2 separate regions of the Homo sapiens genome follow, and region 1 is linked to region 2. Evidence: fine-mapped QTL for protein levels in blood plasma. A gene starts in region 2. The other region holds a variant in brackets. All regions are shown on one strand. Distances are from middle to middle. Region 1 overlaps IL22RA1 (interleukin 22 receptor subunit alpha 1). Region 2 holds the start of IL22RA1 (interleukin 22 receptor subunit alpha 1).

The links. A credible set is the group of variants that fine-mapping cannot tell apart. PIP is the posterior inclusion probability: the model's chance that the variant is causal. Protein levels are from antibody-based Olink assays in UK Biobank. Linkage for the fine-mapping came from a reference panel and not from the study's own genotypes, which makes the PIPs less certain.
Region 1: its variant is the best candidate, but not a certain one, in a credible set for the plasma level of the IL22RA1 protein (UK Biobank, PIP 0.69).

Annotation. Positions count from the first base shown.
Region 1 is chr1:24,122,351-24,124,850 of GRCh38, reverse strand. It overlaps IL22RA1 (interleukin 22 receptor subunit alpha 1), which reads left to right. Exons shown (of 7, transcript NM_021258.4): 6 at 1,428-1,549. Among named protein-coding and RNA genes, the nearest start is that of MYOM3, 11 kb to the right of the region's middle. The variant C/T (reference allele first, on the strand shown) is at 1,080.
Region 2 is chr1:24,141,661-24,144,591 of GRCh38, reverse strand. IL22RA1 (interleukin 22 receptor subunit alpha 1) reads left to right here and starts at 1,452. Exons shown (of 7, transcript NM_021258.4): 1 at 1,452-1,552. The coding sequence starts at 1,510.

The DNA.
Region 1 (2,500 bases), 20 kb after region 2:
AGACATTCGGGTGGGGTCTTTTTCCTGGAGTAGGGATGGGGGTAACATGTGACAGGAGACAGGGTTTCACTGAAGTGGGAAGCTGACCCAGAGAGGCCCAAGCTCGTGGGCTAGGGGAGGATCGAGGAGTGGGCTAGAAGTAGAGGTTCCAGCAGTACCCGGAGTTCACAGTGATCGCCGAGGTCATTGGAGCTATTGATAAACTCTCCAAGCTGAGGCTGCACAGGGGCCAGGAAGAGAGGGAGGGTGATTAGCTGGCCCCTGGACTGCAGGGGTCTTGACTCTCTGAGTCACCTTCCCTCTGTTGCAAACTGTCAGTTTTACCAAAAACTCCAACAACCTCTTCCTCCATAAGTCCTTCACAAGCCCCACTTGGACTGGTGACAGGAAGTGTGTCCTGCCTGGAACTGGCTGCACCCATCCCAAAGATGCTGAGACACAGGGAGAGGCTCAGGCACTAGAGCCCTAGTCATCCCTCTCCCCTCCATTTTAGACAGGACAGTGCCTTCCCAGGCTCCCTTCTTGACCAAGATCTTCCCTGATGCCCAGCCCCTTATCTTGGTAGGGAGGTGGAGAGGACAGGCCTCCCTGTTTTCACTTCTCCCCTCCCTCTGCCTCTACCCTACCAGGGAGGCAGGACCACCCTTAGACTCAGGCAAAAGGGGCCTTTCCCTGCACCCAGCACTTTAGAAGGCCCTTCTCTGGCCCTGTCCTGGCCATTCCCCTCCTTGCAAGATGAAGACTCCATACAACAAAGGGGGCAGATCCATCTGGATCCTGTGACCTCCTTTCTAGATCACATTGTGAGTACCTGGGACCCTGAAACTCTCTGTACATATGGCCCAGAGCCTGTGATCCGTCTAGGCAGTCCTCTTTTGGGGGTACTTCCTCATGAGGGCAGACACTGCTGACATGTAGTGCAGACCCTTGGCCCAAAGGATGACCAACAGGTGGCTATTTGGAGGGGACATGGATGAGCTCGACCATGAGGGCTGGGGCATCTATACACATGTGCGTGAGGGCCCTGGCAGTGTGGGATGGAACTGGGCTGGGCTGGGCTGGGCTGGGGGCCTGCAGTG[C/T]GCTGCGGGCTTTCCCTGTACCTCCCCACTTCAGCACAGTACCTAGAGAAGTCCAAGAACTCTGAATTAAAATATGGCATCCCAGGTGGTTGTAAAAAATCTTTTTGTTAAGGTGGAAACCTCGAACATTTTATTTATTTAACAGTGTAAAAATATAATTTGTAAATTCTGACTATTTAGATGTACAGTATATGGACTTCCATTTGTGATCTTGCATTCTGACGGTAGGAGAGGCCTTGCCAGCCCAGCCAGAGAGGGTTTTCAGCATCCACATGTGGGGCCAGACCCAACCGGGCCCAGGCAGAGCCCAGCCTCACGCTTCCTTCTCTGGCCCCTTTGGTTTCCCAGACCGGACATGGACCTACTCCTTCTCCGGAGCCTTCCTGTTCTCCATGGGCTTCCTCGTCGCAGTACTCTGCTACCTGAGCTACAGATATGTCACCAAGCCGCCTGCACCTCCCAACTCCCTGGTGAGCCATCCCCCCAGGGTGGGAGGGAGAGGTCCAGGGGAGGGCCTGGGCTCCGAGGTCCCCAGTTGTCCCCAAAATGCAGGGATCCACAGACAAAGCAGGAGATGGGCCTGCTCTCTCCATTCACGGAGCTCACAGTCCCAGCTAAAGTCAACGGACGTGTAGCCCAGCAGGTCTCAGGACACATTGAAGTGGGGTGGGTGATCAGGAATAGTAGACATGGAATAAAAAACCCACATGGCTTGGAAGTGTCCAGCACCAGGAGGGTAGTGTGGGACTTGAGTGAGCAGCAAGGCAACGAGGGAGGAATGGTGGGCGCCAGGAGAGCCGTGGCACTCATGCCCTGTCTAAATGGGCAGCCGGGCACCACCATGTGGGAATGCAGGCCCAGCACTGCCTGATCTTCATGTTTTTCAAGAGAAGCCAGAGTTTCAGATTATATTGTGGAATCTCCCAATTTTCAAATATTCAGAACTAATTTTTTAAACAGATTTTTTTTTTTTTGAGATGGAGTCTCCCTCTGTCACCCAGGCTGGAGTGCAGTGGCATGATCTCGTCTCAGCACAACCTCCACCTCCCGAGTTCAAGCGATTCTCCTGCCTCATCCTCCCAAGTAGCTGGGATTACAGGCATGCACCACCACCACACCTGGCTAATTTTTGTATTTTTAGTAGAGACGGGTTTTACCATGTTGGCCAGGCTGGTCTCAAACTCCTGACTTCAGGTGATCTACCCACCTCGGCCTCCCAAAGTGCTGGGATTACAAGCGTGAGCCACTGCACCTGGCCATTTTAAACAGAAATTTTTAAATGGCAAAACTAATTGTTAAGTGGAAAGCCCTTTGTTACAGTTCTTTTAGAATTGCTGTAGCAAGTGAAGACCAGAACCACCCCCCACCCAAAAAATAAAACCACCCCCCACCCAAAAAATAAAAATAAAATGGAAAGCCCT
Region 2 (2,931 bases):
CCCCAAAGCAGGAAGCTGTGCCATCCCACCAACTGAAAGGAAAGATGAGGGGAGAAGGTGTTGCCAGAGCCAGGAGCTGGCCTCCAAACAGGAACAAGAAAGACATAAGGGGTTGCCTGGCTGATGGACTGTCCAGAGGGAGCCAGAACTGCAGAGGGATATGGCCATTGCTGGGGAAGCCACTCAAACAGAAAACGAGGGGAGAAATGCTCTGATCTCTGCCTCCCCAGTCTTCCCCCAGGGGCTAAACCTATCAGAAAGCAGTTGATAAAGGAGTCTAGAAAATGTAGTTTCCTGCAGTTTCAGGAAATGACTGGCATGGGCCCTACCTTAATTCCTCCAAAGCACAGCTTAGATTTGGCTGTTTTGTCAAACAAACTTTAGCAATCAGGGCTGATAACAATTACAATTCAGGAAAGAAAAACTTAAACACCGATCTCAGCATATCACAGCCCATTACACCCAACCCGTTGGCAGGATCCCTGCTAAAATTTCGCTTGCCTTTGTGTGCTTGGGGCCAGGCAAACTCTCCCCAGGGGCAGGACCCTCCAATCGTGTCCACCCTGACCAGAGTCCAGGCCCCAGGGCCCTTCTACCTTCTCCAGGCCCTGCAGGAAGGAGAAAACCATTTCCTAAACACCTGTCCCTTCATTCACACGAAGCTCATGTGCAGATCCTGCCCTACGTGGCAAAATGATGGGAGAGCAGCCTGAATCTTCATCGTCCCGAACCAAAGCCCCATTCATGAAGTTCAGCCCCATCTCTAGCACAGCAGAAAGAATCACTGAAGTTTGAGTTCCATTTTTTTTCTAAACTTTTGCAGATCCTAGACCCAAAGGCTCAAGGTAAGAGCGGCTGGGCTTCCTCACCCCCAACGGCCTCTCTAGGGGAGAGCTGTTCCCAAGCCCACCCCAAGCGTGGGGACCTGCCTTGATATGGAGGATCAAGGAGGAGCATCGGGTGCCCTCAATCTCCTCCTGCCAGAAAAGCAAAGGAGTCACAGCTTTTCCTTTGCTGCAAGAAACATTCTGGGACCTTTTTTTTCCCCCTCTGTTGTCCAGTTATTTTCATCAGGGTAAATCCCCTAGGAATAGAATTATTAAAGCAAAAGATATGTATGTGGTGTAGGCTTTTGATCCACAGTGCCAAATTGCTTTTTGATAAGGCTGCATATCGTGGATTATTCTTGCCTTTTCTGCCCCTCAGCTCCTTGATAAACCACTTGGGATGAATCAGCCACCGGACCAGATAAACAAGCCAGCCTGTTACTATTGCTGTTTTCTGCAAGTCGGAAGGGAACTCCCTTAGATCCCGCCCAGAACCTGGAATTCCAGAGCACACAGGGCCAGGACACCTTTGTACCCCTGCTCCCCACCGGCACAGGTCCCACCCACCCCCTTCTCCCCGCCCCATGCCCGGGTGGAGCCAGCTGCCAGGGCGCCAAGACTCCCAGCCCTCTCTCTGTGCACGGCAGAGTAGAGGCCAAGGGAGGGCTCTGTGCCAGCCCCGATGAGGACGCTGCTGACCATCTTGACTGTGGGATCCCTGGCTGGTGAGTGCCCATCTACCCTGTGGTCAGACCTCCCTTATCCCAGGGGCCAACGATCAGGGTCATCTCCCCAGCACCCTCCCCAGCCCGAGCATAGCCAGTTTCAGTTTCTCCCCTGCTAGGGCTGAGCAGGGTGCCGGGTGTTCACGGAGAAGCAAATGCCCAGCTTAGTTTGCTGGGGGCATGAGAGGGTGCCTCAGACCCTGGGTTCTTCCAGGGACCCAAAGGACCCTCGGGTCTTGAGGGATATAGCCAGCTGTCTGAACTGGGGGTGCTGGATCGCTGCACCTCAGTGAATGGAGAATTGGCCTGGAGGAGGCAGACATCCTTCGGTCCCTCAAACGGTGTCGGCACAGTTTGTACCATCCTTCCTCTGCCTCTCACTTGGCACTGGCCTGACAGGGGAGGAGGAGGAAGGACCGGGGGAAACGAAGCTTGAGTTCACTATTGCCTCCCTCCATGCCCCTGCAGGGCCTCTTTGGCCCCTTTTGTTATCATAGATCTGAAAGAGCATTTTCTCCTAGAGTGGCCAGGTCTGCTACATTAATAGGTCTTAAGACACAGGACTCATTTGGAAACAGGTCTTAAGGGCATAGTGTTCAAAGCCAATAAAGTGAGCGGAGTGGGGGGCTCATCATTATGGAGAACGTTACATGAGACCCTAGACTCTCTCTCTGCTCTCCTGGTGCATTGCATGAAATTCAGGGAACTTCCTTAGGAAGTCAAAGCATAGTCCTGATTGAGGATGGCGAGCAGGTATGGCCTCGGCCAGGCCCTCCTTGCTCAAGTGCAGGACGAGGCCCACGAAAAGGCAGAGCTTCCCACCTTCTCTGCCACTGTCCCGCCAGGGCTGCCTGCGTCTCCAGGGCTTCCAGCTCTGTGGGACCCCCTCCAGTCTGCTTCCCAGCATCAAGCTGGGCGTTCCAGGAAGATGTGAGGCACCCCCTTGAGGCACCAAGACACGTCCCTTTAGACCCTCAGCCATACTGGTTAGAAATCCTAGAGGCTCCCAGCCCTTTGAGATGGGGGACCCCAAGAAATAGCCCTTAGGAGATTGTCAAGGGTCAGCTGCCTCGCGCTGCACACACCGGGCCCTCACCCCCCCAATCTTAGGCTGACTCCAGAGCATGTGGAATTGTTTCTTGTTTGTGTATTTTTCCTTAGCTTCCCAGCTGGTTGACAGAACATTGTTTTTCCACATGAATGTGAAAAAACAAGTTGCCTTTTATAAATCCGCCAGGCTGCCAGGCTCCACACAACACATGTCTCCCCAGATTTCACAATATAGACTTTCACCCGGGAAGTGCCGAAGCAACACAGGCTGAGGAATGGATGATAGATTTGAGGAGGAAAAGGAGCGAGGAGGGTGGGAGAAGAGGGGG